Linked DNA regions of Homo sapiens. The protein of the gene in region 2 interacts with the protein of the main gene of each other region in a pairwise test. Each region holds a gene or a part of one and is shown on either strand. Other genes may lie near its edges. The genes, in order: KATNIP, TBC1D4, NFAT5, ZMIZ1 and NAV1.

Region 1 (3,523 bases), on a different chromosome or scaffold from region 2:
CCAGGCAGGGTACGACCCTCCCACCTCCCTGTGACCCCTGCATACCACTGATTTCCACCTGAGCCCACTCCTCTCTTACAAGCCTGACCCCTGCCTCCGCCTGCTTCCCTCTCTCAGTTCCCTCTCCGCCAGACGTCTTGGTGGGAACAGGGCTGGAGGTCAGATGGGCTCTGGACTGGGGAAGGAAGATGGGTGGCCATGTTGTGGAAGCCGGCCACCCTATTAGGAAAGCTAGGATGCCCACCTTGTGACTGTGCTGGACTAGATGGTTTCCCCATCACCCACTACCTCTTTAAAGGAAGGTGTTTCTGTCTCACCAGATATCCCTGTGGCAGTAATTTTGCAGAACCAGTCATTGAAAACTGCCCATGCTGTCCTTCTCAAATAGCTGTTCCCCGGTGAATTCACAGCACGCACTTGCTCTGTGCCTCTGCTAAACAGAGAATCCATCCATATAAGCAGGTAAAAGAGTGCTTTGAGAATCGACTTTTCTGACAGTCGGCAAATGGTAGCCTGCCATCTGCAATTGGAGGATTGAAGCCGAGTTCCTGTGGCGTAACGCAGGCCGGACAGTTCTCCTTCTAAATTGCTGCGGAAACCTCTGTAACTCAGTGATCCTGAAATTTGTTAGCTCCTACTCACCTAGCTTTCAGGAAGGCTAAGAAGGGGTTAGTATAGGTGAACATCTCCAGGGTCTCAGATTCTGTCTCCCAAGAGCAGATCAGAAGCCAAGGCAACACGGGAAATAAACGATCTGGAGGTGAAACCCACAGGCCGCCGCTTTTCTGATCAGGTTCATTCTTAGAGCACTGTTGAGACAGCAGTGCTGTTCAGGAGAGAAAACCCATGTTTATTCATTTGCTATTCCAAAGTAATTTATTTATTTATTTTGAGACGGAGCTTCACTGTCGTCACCCAGGCTGGAGTACAATGGCACGATCTCAGCTCACTGCAACCTCCCCCTCCCAGGTTCAAGTGATTCTCCTGCCTCAGCCTCCCGAGTAGCTGGGATTACAGGCTCACGCCATCATGCCTGGCTAATTTTTGTATTTTTAGTAGAGACGGGGTTTCATCATGTTGGCCAGACTGGTCTCGAACTCCTGACCTCAGGTGATCCATCCACCTCGGCCTACCAAAGTGTTGGGATTACAAGCATGAGCCACTGCGCCTGGCCCAAAAATAATTGTTGGGTGGCTACAATGTGCCCTTGGACAAGACGGGCAGGGCTTCAGCTGTCTTGGAGCCTAACTTTGAGTGGGAAAAACAATAAATAAGTTAAAAGCTGATAAGCAAGACCATTCAGAGACTAAAAGGAAATAAAACAGGGCAATAAGATAAAGAGGGGACCGATGAGGTGGGGCTGCCCTAGAGGTGTGTTCACTGAAGGTCCTGAACAGAAGAAGGAGCAAGGCTGTGGGCATCTGCGGCAGAACACGCCAGGCAAGTGCACAGGCTCTAAGGCAGGAGGAACAGGCTGAGCCACATCAAGGAATCGAGGCAAGCGCCAGGAGCCGGAGTCAGAGAGGTCAGCAGGCACCCCTGAAGGGGAGTAGGATTTCTTGTCAGTGCCATAGGAAGTCACTGGGCAGCTTTAAGCAGGAGGCTCCCATGATCTGATTTCAGTTGTTAAAAAAAGACTCACTGCTGTGTGGAAAATGAAGTGAGTGCAGGGTTTGGGGGAGACAGCCCAGAGTGGAGGCAGAGAGACCAACTAGGAGGCGATGGTGGTGTCTCTGGGGGAGACCCTGGTGGCCCAGGCAGCAGCACACGCGGGCAAGGAGGTCAGCTCCAGGGCGTGTTCTGGAGAGAGAGCCGAGGGACGTGCCCACATACTGGATATGAGTGAGAAAGTGAGAGGGGACGAGGGGACGGCAAGCTTTTTAGCAACCGCTCGAATGATGGACCCATTTTTAAGATAGTTTAAGACTAAGTGTGGAGAAAGTGATTTCAGAATTCTGTTTCAGGCACACCAGGCACATTGACTCACACCTGTAATCCCAGCACTTTGGGAGGCCAAGGCAGGAGGATCCCTTGAGCCCAGGGGCTCAAGACCAGCCTGGACAACATAGTGAGACCCCGTCTCTACAAAAAAAAATTTATTTTAATTAGCTGGTCGTGGTGACGTGTACCTGTAGTCCCAGCTATCCAGGATGCTGAGATGGGAGGGTCACTTGAGCCCAGAAATTCAGGTTGCAGTGAACCCTGATCGAGCCACTGTAACGCCAGCCTGGGCAACAGAGCAAGACCTTGTCTCTTAAAAAAAAAAGAGAGCATTCTGTTTTGGGCATTTTATATTGGAATTCCTGTTAGATATCCAGGAAGAGAGGCCAAGCAGTCACTTGGGGCTTGGTGGAGAGGTCAGGGTTGGAGATGAAAATAACTGGGAGCCTGGGACCTGAATGAGACCACCTGGAGAGCAAGGGAAGAGCACTCGGGAGGCCTAGGACTGAGCCCTGGGCAGCCTAGTCGTTCAAAGTGCAGCCGAAGAAAAGGAAGCAACCCAGGAGTCGGGCAGGCTCAGCCAGCGAGGCAGGAGGAAAGCCAGGTGGGTGCAGAGCCACACAAGCCCCAGGGAGGAAAGTCATCGCAAAGGAGGGGAAGCTGCCGAGTACTGCCGAGCCGCCACACCCACCCACTCCTAGGAGAAATTCCTATTGCGTATGGCAGTCAGCTGGACCCTGTAATTTACTTTAGGAACCAGACACTTCTGAGAGTCATTAGTAATGACACCAGGATAACAGATATAAATCAGAATTGTCCCAGACAAACTAGGATGGCCCGTCACCCTAGTTACAGGTGCCCGGGCCAGGTGGGTTCCATGTGGAGGTGGAGGCAGAAGCCCAACGGGAGGAGGAACAAGGGGTAGTGGGAGGAGGAGCCCACGGGGACAGTGACACTCAGAGATTCACTGACGGGGTGACGGACAGATCATGCGGGGGGCCCTGCAATGGAATATTCCTTAGCAGTAGAAAGGAAAGGAACTATCAGTTCCCATAACACAGGTGAATCTCAGAGCAGTTATGGTGACTGAAAGAGCCGAGCAAAAAAGACTACATGCAACATGATTCCTTTATGTAAACATTCCAGAAAGGACGATCAGTATATAGGGAGGGACCATAAGTGGGTGGTTGCCTGGAGCCAGGGAAGGAGGAAGGGGAGACAGGGGTTACCAAGGGGCACGAGGAAACCTTAGGGTGATAGGTACGTTTGTTCTCTTGAGTGTGATGGCTTCATTGGCGTAGACACATGTTAAAACTGATCAAGCTGTACCCGTTAAATATGCACAGTTTATTGTATGGGGTGTGTATTCTATTCCCCGATAAAGCTGGAAAAAGAGTTTTGCTGTAAAGAGGATGACACAAGTGAAACAGTAGCAGGAGATGTGATTTTATCTTAAGCATGGAAGGAAGAGAGTTGAACCTGCGTGACATAGGGGCATTTAGGCTGGCAGTGAGAGAGGAGAGCGAGGTGGGGACCATTTGTGAAGGTTACTGTATGTCATGTGGAGAGCTTTGGAATTTAT
Region 2 (3,500 bases):
AATTATAGACATAAAATACTTCTTGGTACTTACAGTCCATATTAAATGAATGTATAAATCCGATTTACATGAATTTTTGTAATGTCAAATTGATGAATAATTTTTAAGTTGAAATATCATTGTATTTTTAAACTGATAGCTATTATCCTTTTATCTGTGGACCCAGATCAAACACTACTCACAGGTACTTCCCTGTATCTTTGAAATTCTAATAATAGCTACCAAACCGTTGTTTCTGAAAATCAGAATTATTGAATTCCTTACAAGACCATCTGATTCCTATCTGATATTAAGATACAGGTGACCAGGCACAGTGGGTCACGCCTGTAATCCCAGCACTTTGGGAGGTCAAGGCAGGTGGATCACCTGAGGTCCGGAAGTTTGAGACCAGCCTGCCCAACACAGTGAAACCCCAACTCTACTAAAAATACAAAAAATTTAGCAGGGTATGGTAGTGCATGCCTGTAATCCCAGCTACTCGGGAGGCTGAGGCAGGAGAATCACTTGAACCCAGGAGGTGGAGGTTGCAGTGAGCCAAGATCGCGCCACTGCACTCCTGCCTGGGTGACAGAGCAAGACTCCGTCTCCAAAAAAAAAAAAAACGATAAAAAGATAAAAAGATACAGGTAAACTCTTTAGGAATAAAAAATAAAACTTTCCACAGTTGTTATTTGACTTGTTAAACCTACGAATAGTCATCAATGAGGAATCAAATCATATGAACTCACACCAGAAAACCTAATGTTGATAGCAAAGCCCTATCTCCCCAGTCAAAATTTTACCTTCAGAAAGTAAAGAAAAATGGAATACTTCATCTCCATTCATACTCTCAAAAAATATCATTTACTATAACGCTCAGACTAAAAATACAATTCTTTTGTTATACATTGGCAACTGAGATATTAAAGGCAAAAAACTCATCTCTGGGAAACAGAAAAAAATAGTATATTTTAAAAGCATCTTTAAACTATTACTTCTTATCTAAAGCACAGTATTATGATGAACTGGGAGTCATGCATACCTCATTTCAAGGGAGGAAAAACCTGAGAATCCTCTTTAAAGTCTTCTTTTATATTTTTAACCACTGAAAGCTTTAAATTGCCAGGCAGTGGTTGTTTAAGTATCTATAGACAAAATTTAAACTGCTTATTAGCAACCAACCCACTTAGAGAAGTGAAAACTAGGAGAGAAATGTGCAAACAGGGAGTCTGAGGTAGGCTAAAGACAGCAGTGGCAGTTAATACCCCACTCAAAATACCTGGAAAATCTTAATGGTGCTTCTTCAGAGCCTGCTAAGAAAAGCAGACTCAGTGGCTCAAGCCTGTAATCCCAGCATTCTGGGAGGCTGAGGCGGGCGGATCACCTGAGGTCAGGAGTTCAACACCAGCCTGGCCAACATGGTGAAACCCCATCTCTACTAGAAATACAAAAAAATTAGCCAGGCATGGTGGCACCTGCCTGTAATCCCAGCTACTGGGGAGGCTGAGGCAGCAGAATGGCTTGAACCCGGGAGGCAGAGATTGCAGTGAGCCGAGATCGTGCCACTGCACTCCAGCCTGGGCAACAAAGCAAGATTCCATCACACACACACACACATACACACACACACACACAAAGCAGACTGAAAAGGCACCACTGGCTTTCACACTTTTTCCTCTGTAAAGGCCTATCTTACATGAAGATAAAGGAGGGGAGATATCAATGATAAGTTCAAAAAGAACCATAACATGGTATCTGCTATTTGTGTACTCAAAAGTAAAGGGATAAAGATACTTTCAGATTGTAAACAAAAGATCTGTGAGCCTTTTCAACTGAGAAGTTGAGAAAAAGTGAATAAAGATGATTTGATACCTTCTCCATGTAACCCATAGACTTAGGGCATAAAGGACTGGGTCCTCATCACCTACCTTTCTTAAATTACTTATTTACTTACTTCAGGAATTTTATGGAAAAGGTATTCTGCCTCTGGGTCTCATACACTTAGAAGTTTACCTAAATAGCAAATCCCACACTAAGTGAACTAAAACATGCCCCAATCTTTACCCAAGTTCTAAGACAATGGCTCTACATTTCTTTAAATCTGAACTGTAATAATTGAGAAGAGGGCCAGGATTTCTGGTAATAGTCTCACACCTTCCTCGGGAAGCACAAGTGCCTCACCTGCAGCGACATCATGTCAGGTCTGTACTGCTTGCGGAAGCCGAGGTCATACATGAGGAATTTCAGCATTTCAAAGGCTTGCTCTTCACTCATGTGCAGAAGCAGGACTCCAGCCACAAAGCTGATCCCCTGACAGTATCCCACTTCTTTGTCCAGCAAAGAATAGGCTTTCAGGAGGTTAAACAGTGACAGCTGTCCTGGCCCAAGCTGTACTGAAAAGTAAGGGTGAGTAGGAAACGTCCTTCCTGCAGAGGAAAAGAAGGAAAATATTTTTTGAAATGTCCTCATGCCTTGGAGACAACAGTGAAATTGCAATTCAGTGACCTCCAAGAATAAACAGACACTCTTTCCCAAACCAGTGAGAGTTGCTTAGAGTCACCATGTAACTAAGAGTCTCTCCCTCTCTCACCCCAAGTTCTGCCAGGCCACCATACCATCTTCACATATACGATATGGGAGGAAACATTTTATGCTAACCAGTACTTCTTTCCAGCAAAAAAAAAAAAAAAAAAAAAAAAATACAATAAAAATCCACAAACCAATGATGTACCCAGGAGAAATACCAGGAAAATGGAATATAAATTTTATTCTGACTATAAAGCAAGGCAAATTCTAATTCATATAAAGACTACCTTCTAAATGAAACCAGAAGTCTGTAAGACATATTATATTATTTAAAAGAAAATCTTCATAGTCTATAAACAGGTTTATTTCTGCTTTTCTTATGACACTGGAGGGACTTTTTGGGTTTGTTTGACTTTACATTCAGACTGTCATTCAGAAGAAAACTGCTTTTTCAACTATCGTTCGCTCTCTGCTCTTAAAATACCTCCATGAGCCATGTAAACCACTTTTCTTTTTCAATATCTAAAAATATCAAGGAAAATAAAGGGTCAAGTCAATTTCAAATAAATTCCCCTCTAAAATATACCTCTAGGTATAAAATTACCACAGAGACACTTGAGCTGGCAATGTGAGTCCTGCATCACTAAAAGGAGAGTTCTATACACAGAAACAAATCCGTCTTCACATCAAAGCTGTCTATATTGGTATGGGCATTTTTCTAGGGCCACAAAAATGAAGGGGGATGTTAGCTTCCTTGTGAAATGATTACTCATGTCATTTAGAACTTGCAAGAGTGCCAGGTTTTAAAATGTTTTCTCCCACATATGCTTAAAAGTGATTTTTTTTTCTAGGAACCAATAAGATTAATTCTGCAGAGCCAGTAAGAGGAAGATATGAGAAAATAACAATTGCATGCTGAAGAAACACAGATGGCTACAAGCAGAGCCAAATAAGCAATTTTTAAAATTATGGTTTTACTTTCTCACTTAAAATTT
Region 3 (3,523 bases), on a different chromosome or scaffold from region 2:
GTGTTCTGATTACCCTTAATTCACCTAAGCATATCAATAGCCGATTATTCTACTTCCTTGTTTGACTATCTTTGCTTGTCGTACTTTTAAAAAATATATCTCAAGGAAAATGAGACATCATGTTATGGAGAATTGTAGTCCTGTACCTGTTTTCTAAATGATAATAATATAGAGTGGAAAGCTGGTCCTGCATATATTTTTAGAGCAATAGTGATTTTTGATGTATGTTACAAACTTGTTTAATGTTTATATATTCATAATATTTGGGGATTTTTATTTTTTAGACTACAAAGTCTGTTGGATCAACTCAGCAAACATTAGAAAACATCTCAAACATAGCAGGAAATGGCTCTTTTTCATCACCATCATCTTCCCACCTACCTTCTGAAAATGAAAAACAGCAGCAGATTCAGCCCAAGGCATACAACCCAGAGACCCTGACAACTATTCAAACCCAGGACATCTCACAGCCTGGTACTTTTCCAGCAGTTTCTGCTTCTAGTCAGCTGCCCAACAGCGATGCACTATTGCAGCAGGCTACACAGTTTCAGACAAGAGAAACTCAGTCTAGAGAGATATTACAGTCAGATGGTACAGTGGTTAATTTGTCACAACTGACTGAGGCATCACAACAACAGCAGCAGTCACCACTACAAGAACAAGCACAGACTTTACAGCAGCAGATTTCATCAAATATTTTTCCATCACCAAATAGTGTGAGTCAGCTTCAGAATACTATTCAGCAGCTGCAAGCAGGGAGTTTCACAGGCAGTACTGCTAGTGGCAGCAGTGGAAGTGTTGACTTGGTCCAACAAGTTTTAGAGGCACAGCAGCAGTTATCTTCAGTTTTATTTTCTGCTCCAGATGGTAATGAGAATGTTCAAGAGCAGCTTAGTGCAGATATTTTTCAACAAGTCAGTCAAATTCAGAGTGGTGTAAGCCCTGGAATGTTTTCCTCAACAGAGCCAACAGTCCATACCAGACCAGATAATTTATTACCTGGAAGAGCTGAAAGTGTTCATCCACAGTCTGAAAACACGTTATCTAATCAACAGCAGCAGCAGCAGCAGCAACAGCAAGTGATGGAATCTTCAGCCGCAATGGTGATGGAGATGCAACAGAGTATCTGCCAGGCAGCTGCCCAGATTCAGTCAGAGTTATTCCCTTCAACTGCTTCAGCAAATGGAAACCTTCAGCAATCGCCAGTTTACCAGCAGACTTCTCACATGATGAGTGCATTGTCTACCAATGAGGATATGCAAATGCAGTGTGAATTGTTTTCTTCTCCTCCTGCAGTTTCTGGAAATGAAACTTCTACAACTACCACACAGCAGGTTGCAACCCCTGGCACTACCATGTTTCAGACATCAAGTTCAGGAGATGGAGAAGAAACTGGAACACAAGCAAAACAGATTCAGAACAGTGTCTTTCAGACCATGGTCCAAATGCAACATAGTGGGGACAATCAACCTCAAGTTAACCTTTTTTCATCCACAAAAAGTATGATGAGTGTTCAGAATAGTGGTACCCAACAACAAGGTAATGGTTTATTCCAGCAAGGGAATGAGATGATGTCACTTCAATCTGGAAATTTTTTGCAGCAGTCTTCTCATTCACAGGCCCAACTTTTTCATCCTCAAAATCCTATTGCCGATGCTCAGAACCTTTCCCAGGAAACTCAAGGTTCTCTCTTTCATAGTCCAAATCCTATTGTCCACAGTCAGACTTCTACAACCTCCTCTGAACAAATGCAGCCTCCAATGTTTCACTCTCAAAGTACCATTGCTGTGTTACAGGGCTCTTCAGTTCCTCAAGACCAGCAGTCAACCAACATATTTCTTTCCCAGAGTCCCATGAATAATCTTCAGACTAACACAGTAGCCCAAGAAGCATTTTTTGCAGCACCGAACTCAATTTCTCCACTTCAGTCAACATCAAACAGTGAACAACAAGCTGCTTTCCAACAGCAAGCTCCAATATCACACATCCAGACTCCTATGCTTTCCCAAGAACAGGCACAACCCCCGCAGCAGGGTTTATTTCAGCCTCAGGTGGCCCTGGGCTCCCTTCCACCTAATCCAATGCCTCAAAGCCAACAAGGAACCATGTTCCAGTCACAGCACTCAATAGTTGCCATGCAGAGTAACTCTCCATCCCAGGAACAGCAGCAGCAGCAGCAACAGCAGCAGCAACAGCAGCAGCAACAACAACAGAGCATTTTATTCAGTAATCAGAATACCATGGCTACAATGGCGTCTCCAAAGCAACCACCACCAAACATGATATTCAACCCAAATCAAAATCCAATGGCTAATCAGGAGCAACAGAACCAGTCAATTTTTCACCAACAAAGTAACATGGCCCCAATGAATCAAGAGCAACAGCCCATGCAATTTCAGAGTCAGTCCACAGTTTCCTCACTTCAGAACCCAGGTCCTACCCAGTCGGAATCATCACAGACCCCCTTGTTCCATAGCTCTCCTCAGATTCAGTTGGTACAAGGGTCACCTAGTTCTCAAGAGCAGCAAGTAACTCTCTTCTTATCTCCAGCATCCATGTCTGCCTTGCAGACCAGTATAAATCAACAAGATATGCAACAGTCTCCTCTTTATTCCCCTCAGAACAACATGCCTGGAATTCAAGGAGCCACATCTTCGCCTCAACCACAGGCTACTTTATTTCACAACACAGCAGGAGGCACAATGAACCAACTGCAGAATTCTCCTGGCTCATCTCAGCAGACATCAGGAATGTTCTTATTTGGCATTCAAAATAGTAAGAAACTCTAATTTTTCATTACTTAATTGGTCATTATTATTATTAGAAGGAAGCAGAGTGCAGTGGTGCGATCTCAGCTCACTGCACCTGCACCCTCTGCCTCCCAGGTTCAGGTGATTCTCCTGCCTCAGCCTCCCAAGCAGCTGGGATTACAGGTGTGCACAACCACGCCCAGCTAATTTTTGTATTTTTGTTAGAGGCGGGGTTTCACCATGTTGGCCAGGCTGGTGTTGAATTTTTGACCTCAAGTGATCCGCTGGCCTCGGCCTCCCAAAGTGCTGGGATTACAGGCGTGAGCCACCACACCTGTCCTGTATAGTTGTTTTAAGAGTACAGATTGTAGTTAGAACTCTATCACCTATAGACTATAAGATCTTGTACAAGTTATTTGGCTTTTATGGGTCTCAATTCTCTCATTTAAAATGGTGATAATATTACATACTTTACATGGATTTGGGGAGGATTAAATATGGCAATGTATAAAAATGTGTGTTTGCCATTTTAAGCTATAAACTTAAAAGGAAAATGAAGTCAGAATGACAGATAATACCTTACCCAGTTGAAGTAAGTAGTTTCTAAGGAGGTAGAAACTCATCTTTAATGTTTATATACCAAGGAATTTATATAGGACTTTTGATATTTAAGCAAAGTTGTATTTTTAGACTGCTTAAAGGAAACCTAAGATGAATTCCAGTGCCAGTCTGTGAAAACCTTTTTCTTGGACTATCAGGTGCCTAACTTTTAG
Region 4 (3,523 bases), on a different chromosome or scaffold from region 2:
AGGTTGTCGATGGCCCAGAACTGAACACTAGGTGTGTGTTCTGCTCTGAGGGGAGTACGAGGACAATGCCACCCAAGTTCAGCCTTGGAATGCAGGGGCACAGGGGGCTCCTTTCTGGAATTGCATCCTGTTGACTGTGTTCCTCTGTCACATTGGGGTACACATTGGGGAGCACAGCCCTAACCCAGGCACCAGGAGAGACACAAAGGTCGGGGGAGTTAGAATCAGGCCCCTCATAATGGTGTGAGCAAGAGGCTCTGAAAGTGTCCCTGGAGTTCAGGGGCACATGTGCTCCAGGAAGAACGGCCTCAAGGGGAGGTGGCCTATGATCTGGACAGGCAGAACAAAATGCCCCTGGATGTCAGGACGAGAAGGGGCCCAAAGCATTATCTGGTTTTGTGGGTGGGAAACAGCAGGAGCAAATGAGGAGAGGCGGGCCCCATCCCGTTGTTCAGGTGACCTGGCTATGTGACGTTGGCAACATTGAACGTGTTTCCCCTCTCCTTTCTCTCCCACCACAGCCCAACTATGGAAACCAGCAATATGGACCAAACAGCCAGTTCCCCACCCAGCCAGGCCAGTACCCAGCCCCCAACCCCCCGAGGCCACTCACCTCCCCCAACTACCCAGGACAGAGGATGCCCAGCCAGCCGAGCTCCGGGCAGTACCCGCCCCCCACGGTCAACATGGGGCAGTATTACAAGGTGAGTCCCAGCCTCGCCACCACCCACGGGGCCCCTTCCCTCCTAACCACCTCACTCCCCTAACTCCACCGGGATCACTCTGACCCTGCGTGTGTTTGCCCCAAGGACAGCGAGGGGTGGGTGATTTCTGAACGTCCCCATGTGTTCAGGGCGAAGTTCGGTGGCCAGAATGTCAGAGTGGCTTTTCTCAGTTCCTATTCTCATTCGTCTCGGATGATGGTTTTTTTTTCTCCTTTTCTTATTCACGGCACTCACAAAATAATAAAGGAAATATATTTTATTAAAAAAACACACATCCCCTGTATATATTAACATTTCATTCTAAACTTTGTATGTGCAGGTGGGCACTAACATGTTATAAAATTGTTATTACAGCTGTAACTTTGAATCTGTACCTTTTACTTAACATGACATAATAAGGATGATACTTACTGCTACTAGAGCCCCTGGGGTTTTTACTTTTAATGGCTGCCTAATATTCTGCTGAGATCACCATATCATATTTTATTATTCCTTCTGTTAGGTATTTGGGTTGCTTCTGATTTTTCACTTTAGAAATAACACTATGATGAGTATCTTCAGGCATATAGCCTTTCCTTTCCTTAGGATTATTTTCTTGGGAGTAAAGAAGACACTTTATTATTTTACATTTATTTGCCAAAAATCATGCTAATTTATTATGGCCATCTACCAAACAGGTTTACCGTTTTTGCTCCAACTTCAGCATACTAGGTGTTGCTATTTTTGTAACTTCTGCTAAATTAATAGCTAGGGACAGAGAGAGGCAAAATGCCGTCCCTGAGGTGTAGCTGTCCCGCCCTGCTCACTCAATATACCCAGCAGTGGATGGGCCCCTGTAGCATCCCCGTGCTCCTGGTAGATTTTACTGTCCAGAGGGAGAGCGGGCTTCTGATGGCTTTTCTGCCCCCCACTCAGTGTTGTTTATCTTGTTTTAATAGCCAGAACAGTTTAATGGACAAAATAACACGTTCTCGGGAAGCAGCTACAGTAACTACAGCCAAGGGAATGTCAACAGGGTATGTTCCAATTTAATTTACAAATTCTAAGCCACAGGGAGTTGTTGCCTCTAAAGGTTCTCACTGTTCCTGCTCCAGCCTCTCTGGACATTCAAAGGGGCCCATGGGTGGGGGTGCACTCCCTGGTCCCCTGTCCTGGGGACAGAGATGCTCAGGACTGAGAATCCACGGCTCCAGGTGGGGTGAGCCCCAGGGTAAAGTGTCAGCCTGGCTAGTCTTGAAAACAAGGAGAGGGAGAGGGGTTCCTGGGGAACCTGGGCCCCAGATTCTGCAGGCCCCGACTCCACCTGGGGACCCTGATGGGGTAGGCATAGAGGGTGTGGCCTTGAGTCGTGATGTGGGAAGCCCACCTGCTCGGGTGACAGGAGGCCTGGGCTTCATTCCCGCTGTCCTGTCCTCCAAGGGTTGTGCTGAGCAAGTCCCCAACCCTGAGCCTCTGTGTCCCCATTTATCACAGGGATGGGTAAGGGTCTCCACAGGCACCTGACACAGGAGCTCAGTGGTGAGACCCAGATGAAGGGTGGGGAGGCCCTTCCCAGGGCTGTCTTCTGAGCAGGACAGAGATCTGCGAGAGAGAAGAGTTTCCCTGGAGGAGGCTCTCCTCCCGAGGGGCATGGCTCCAGGCCCCTGGGATGAGTGCGGTGTATGTCCATAGCCATGGCCCCTTCTGTCTCCGTAATCCCATAACTCGTGCGTGTCTTTTCTTTCCCTCCAGCCTCCCAGGCCGGTTCCTGTGGCAAATTACCCCCACTCACCTGTTCCAGGGAACCCCACACCCCCCATGACCCCTGGGAGCAGCATCCCTCCATACCTGTCCCCCAGCCAAGACGTCAAACCACCCTTCCCGCCTGACATCAAGCCAAATATGAGCGCTCTGCCACCACCCCCAGGTGAGGGCCCTCCCTCCCTCTCTTGGCAGCTCCACCTGGGCCCCCCAGTGGGCCGGGAGCAGGGGCTTCGCAGTCAGGCTGCCTGGGGAGTGGGCATCAGAAGGGGCAGAGAGTTGAGAGCAGGTGAGATACCCAGGGGCACACTCAAGGCGGGGTAGGCAGCTCACAGACAGCCTTTCTTACTGCTGCCTGGGCGCCTGGAGGCTGGGAGGAAAATCTATACGCAGCCATGGAAGGATGCAAGGAGGCGGGTGGAAGAAGAGGGGATGAGTCGCTGGGGCGGGGCCGTGTAGAATCGAAGAAGCCATGACTCACTGGTGTGCCCTTGGACTGGCTATGTCTCTGGCCCTGTTTACACACCCCTGCCTTCCTCTGAGCATGCAGCCCAGGGTGAGCAAGTCCCACCTACAGCCCCAGAACCCATGGCAGCTGAGGCTTGTGGCTCACCCACCTCCTCTCCTCGCCCCAGCCAACCACAATGACGAGCTGCGGCTCACATTCCCTGTGCGGGATGGCGTGGTGCTGGAGCCCTTCCGCCTGGAGCACAACCTGGCGGTCAGCAACCATGTGTTCCACCTGCGGCCCACGGTCCACCAGACGCTGATGTGGAGGTGCGTGTCAGGGCAGGGGCGCCAGCCCAGGCGGGATGAAGGAGGTCCCCTGGGATGGCTTCCTTGGGCCCGAGTGGGGCCCTGGGCAGGGGGTAGCAGCATCTTCTGACACCTTCACGTGTTCAGCATCATTGACTGGGCCCTGTCCTGCGGTTGTCATGGGAAGTCTGCAGGTGCACAGGTAGATGAGCAGTCAAGGTGTCGTGGCCCAAGGGCAGGGAGCAGCTGTCACTCACCCCAGAGGAAAAGGTGGCTGGCTCAGACCTAGGCTGGGAAGCTGT
Region 5 (3,523 bases), on a different chromosome or scaffold from region 2:
AGTAAATTGGTTTGTATAATTAGATTGATCCAAAAATTACCTTGCCTTTATAAAATACCTTTCTGTTAAGAAGATACAACGTTTTCTCTTGCCAGATAAAGGCAGAGTCTCTTCCTTTTGTAAAAGAACATCACCAAATTACAAGGAAGTTTAAGTCACACTTTGAGTTGCTGACAAACCTAGGACAAACCCCCAGGTTTTCTCCTTTTGGCTAGCCTATATACTGGTGCAGAGCCATTCTTGCATCAATGTGAAACATTTATTTTTTGCCTGGGCTTCTGTTTTAACGATTGACCTTCATCTCTCCTGTCCTGTAGCTGGGATGAAAGCAGCTCCATCAGTAGTGGACTCAGCGATGCCTCAGACAATCTCAGTTCAGAAGAATTCAATGCCAGCTCCTCACTCAACTCCCTCCCAAGTACTCCCACTGCTTCTCGCAGGAACTCAACAATAGTGGTACGTGAGTTTGCAAACACCCAAGCTGCCATCTCAAGATGAACCACAGGGCAAATGGCATTATCTGTGTATGGGGTTGCACGTACACACCCACTCCATGGGATTGGTTCTCATAGGCCTTTGGCCAGGTCATTTTAGAGTTGCCCCCACCCCCTCCCAAAAAAAGCTAAGGCTACTCACCCAAGACATTAGATGTTGTCATATTGTGTATACTTAGTGCCTACACCAATCTAGAGTGATACATGTAAGAGCTATTCCAACTGGAGAAAAAGAAACCCCGAGATATATGTCATCTGCTGTTGGAAACCCTAGGGGTATAGGTAGAAACCCTCAGTTTGACTTAATACTCTGAGATGAGCAGCGCCAGGTACTAACTAAAATCAATCCTGTCAGCTATCCAGTCTCCCATCTGCATAGAAGTATCTCACTCTGCCTTTTTCTCTTTTCTTTAGCTACGCACAGACTCAGAGAAGCGCTCACTGGCAGAAAGTGGGCTGAGCTGGTTTAGTGAATCAGAGGAGAAAGCCCCTAAAAAACTGGAGTACGACAGTGGTAGCCTGAAGATGGAACCTGGGACTTCTAAGTGGCGGAGGGAGCGGCCTGAGAGCTGTGATGATTCATCCAAGGGTGGAGAACTGAAAAAGCCCATCAGCCTGGGCCACCCTGGTTCCCTGAAGAAGGGCAAGACCCCACCTGTGGCTGTAACTTCCCCCATCACTCACACAGCCCAGAGTGCCCTCAAAGTCGCAGGTGAGCCTGGAATAAAGGAAGGTACAAGGGCAAAGACCTAGTTCTTTGGTTGCTCCTCTTCTTAGTGGTCATTAACCCATAGGATGATAGCAAACATTTGCATAGTGCTTTAACAGACATTATCTTATCTGGTCTAAGGACAGTCCCGTGAGTTAGGAAAGATGGGTGTTATTATTTCCATTTTACAAATGTGGAGGAAATAGAAACTCAAAGAGATTAAGTGGCTGGGCCAAAATCCCAGTTAATATGAGGTACAGGAGGAAGTATATTATGTTTAGAGACTAGTTTGGCCTCCTTCCAAACACTTCCAATGCTTGCTTTCTTCTTTCTCCCAAGTTAGTCACTCAAGGCACTTATTTTCATAGGATACAGCTTGACATCTCAGGAAGATCCTAAGAAAACAATAAATAAAATGGCTACAGCAAGAGAATTATAGTGCCCCCAAAGTTGGCCCCTTGGGTAACTTTTAGCCTTAATCAACATTTTCCTGTAGTCTCTAATTACTAAGAGATATTGTCATACTCTATTCCATTTGCTTCCCCACCTTTTTTTTCCCTTCCACAACTAGTTGTTAGATGGATATTCTTGATCATCTTTGTGTTTGCCTCTGCCTTTTTAATCAAAATGGACCATTCTACTCTGGGAGCAAAACAAAAAAAATTCCTAGCCTCCCCACCCCTCCCAGCCAGAGTCTTTCAGACAAGAAACTTTATCAGCTTATCTTGTACCTGTTTACCCAAATTTAGGCCTCTAAAAGTCTACAATACATGGACAATGTTCCCTTCTCCCATGGAGGGAAAGAAAAGGGTGGGTTTTTAAGATACTGGTCAGTTTCAGCTCTTTTCTCATTTCCCGTCCTCTTGCAGGCAAACCTGAGGGCAAAGCTACAGACAAGGGTAAGCTTGCAGTGAAGAATACTGGGCTCCAACGCTCCTCCTCTGATGCTGGTCGGGACCGCCTGAGTGATGCTAAGAAGCCCCCCTCGGGCATTGCTCGCCCCTCCACTTCGGGATCCTTTGGCTACAAGAAGCCTCCTCCTGCCACAGGCACAGCCACTGTCATGCAAACTGGTGGTTCAGCCACTCTCAGCAAGATCCAGAAGTCCTCAGGCATCCCTGTCAAGCCAGTAAATGGGCGCAAGACTAGCTTAGATGTTTCCAACAGTGCAGAGCCAGGATTCCTGGCTCCTGGAGCCCGTTCTAACATCCAGTACCGCAGCCTGCCCCGGCCAGCCAAGTCAAGTTCTATGAGCGTGACCGGCGGGCGGGGTGGACCTCGCCCTGTGAGCAGCAGCATTGACCCCAGTCTCCTCAGCACCAAGCAGGGAGGCCTTACGCCTTCCAGACTGAAGGAGCCTACCAAGGTAGCCAGTGGGCGGACCACTCCAGCCCCTGTCAATCAGACAGATCGGGAAAAGGAGAAGGCCAAAGCCAAGGCAGTGGCCTTGGACTCAGACAACATCTCCTTGAAGAGTATTGGCTCCCCAGAAAGTACTCCCAAGAACCAAGCAAGCCACCCCACAGCCACCAAGCTGGCAGAGCTGCCACCAACCCCTCTCAGGTACCCAATGTGGGCAGCCGCCTCCTTGTCTGTTTGCTTTGTCATTCTTTCGCATATCTCTGCCCTCCTTGGACTAGATGAGGCATGGCCTATCCACCGTTGTCTCTAGGCCTTTGCATGGCTCTTTCCCACCTCTCCCCCATATGCCAAGGTTCTGAAAGAATCTAGTTTCTGACAGTTCTGAAAGACTGAATCCCTCTTTCAAAACTTACCTCATTTGTACTATTCTCTGATCAATGCTTACCCTGTCTTCAGCACTTGTATGGGTGTTTTTACTGTTTATTTACACATATATACCTATTTGCATAAATTCACTTGTATCTCCCATGTGCATATGCTGGCCCCTTATCTAAGCTGAATGTGCCCCAAGTTGGGTATCAGATTTCCTTGCATTGTATTTCACAACAGCATTAGGATAAGCCTCTGTGCTTAGCAAATAGGCAGAAAACAAGACTGGATAGGATTTCTTTAAGGTCCTATCTGCCTCTCACTCTGTAATTCTATTATTCTAAATATTTCGTTTGATCTTCTCTCAGGGCCACAGCGAAGAGCTTTGTCAAACCACCCTCACTAGCCAATCTTGACAAGGTCAACTCCAACAGTCTGGATCTACCATCATCCAGTGATACCACCCATGCTTCAAAGGTCCCAGATCTGCATGCTACAAGCTCAGCATCTGGGGGCCCTCTCCCTTCCTGCTTCACCCCCAGTCCGGCACCCATCCTCAATATTAACTCAGCCAGCTTCTCCCAGGGCC

The links.
Region 1: the proteins of TBC1D4 (region 2) and KATNIP interact in a two-hybrid assay, tested with the Homo sapiens proteins (one large-scale study listed by IntAct).
Region 3: the proteins of TBC1D4 (region 2) and NFAT5 interact in a two-hybrid assay, tested with the Homo sapiens proteins (one large-scale study listed by IntAct).
Region 4: the proteins of TBC1D4 (region 2) and ZMIZ1 interact in a two-hybrid assay, tested with the Homo sapiens proteins (one large-scale study listed by IntAct).
Region 5: the proteins of TBC1D4 (region 2) and NAV1 interact in a two-hybrid assay, tested with the Homo sapiens proteins (one large-scale study listed by IntAct).

What each region holds. Positions count from the first base shown.
Region 1 is NC_000016.10:27,735,129-27,738,651, forward strand, and holds part of KATNIP (katanin-interacting protein), read left to right. Parts: intron 1-366; exon of another isoform or gene 367-462; intron 463-3,523. UniProt on the Homo sapiens protein: May influence the stability of microtubules (MT), possibly through interaction with the MT-severing katanin complex.
Region 2 is NC_000013.11:75,297,170-75,300,669, forward strand, and holds part of TBC1D4 (TBC1 domain family member 4), read right to left. Parts: intron 2,406-3,500; coding exon 2,161-2,405; intron 1-2,160.
Region 3 is NC_000016.10:69,691,465-69,694,987, forward strand, and holds part of NFAT5 (nuclear factor of activated T-cells 5), read left to right. Parts: intron 1-284; coding exon 285-2,775; intron 2,776-3,523. UniProt on the Homo sapiens protein: Transcription factor involved, among others, in the transcriptional regulation of osmoprotective and inflammatory genes. Binds the DNA consensus sequence 5'-[ACT][AG]TGGAAA[CAT]A[TA][ATC][CA][ATG][GT][GAC][CG][CT]-3'.
Region 4 is NC_000010.11:79,295,950-79,299,472, forward strand, and holds part of ZMIZ1 (zinc finger MIZ domain-containing protein 1), read left to right. Parts: intron 1-521; coding exon 522-704; intron 705-1,663; coding exon 1,664-1,741; intron 1,742-2,456; coding exon 2,457-2,631; intron 2,632-3,100; coding exon 3,101-3,242; intron 3,243-3,523. UniProt on the Homo sapiens protein: Acts as a transcriptional coactivator. Increases ligand-dependent transcriptional activity of AR and promotes AR sumoylation. The stimulation of AR activity is dependent upon sumoylation.
Region 5 is NC_000001.11:201,780,104-201,783,626, forward strand, and holds part of NAV1 (neuron navigator 1), read left to right. Parts: intron 1-317; coding exon 318-456; intron 457-908; coding exon 909-1,206; intron 1,207-2,072; coding exon 2,073-2,766; intron 2,767-3,302; coding exon 3,303-3,523. UniProt on the Homo sapiens protein: May be involved in neuronal migration.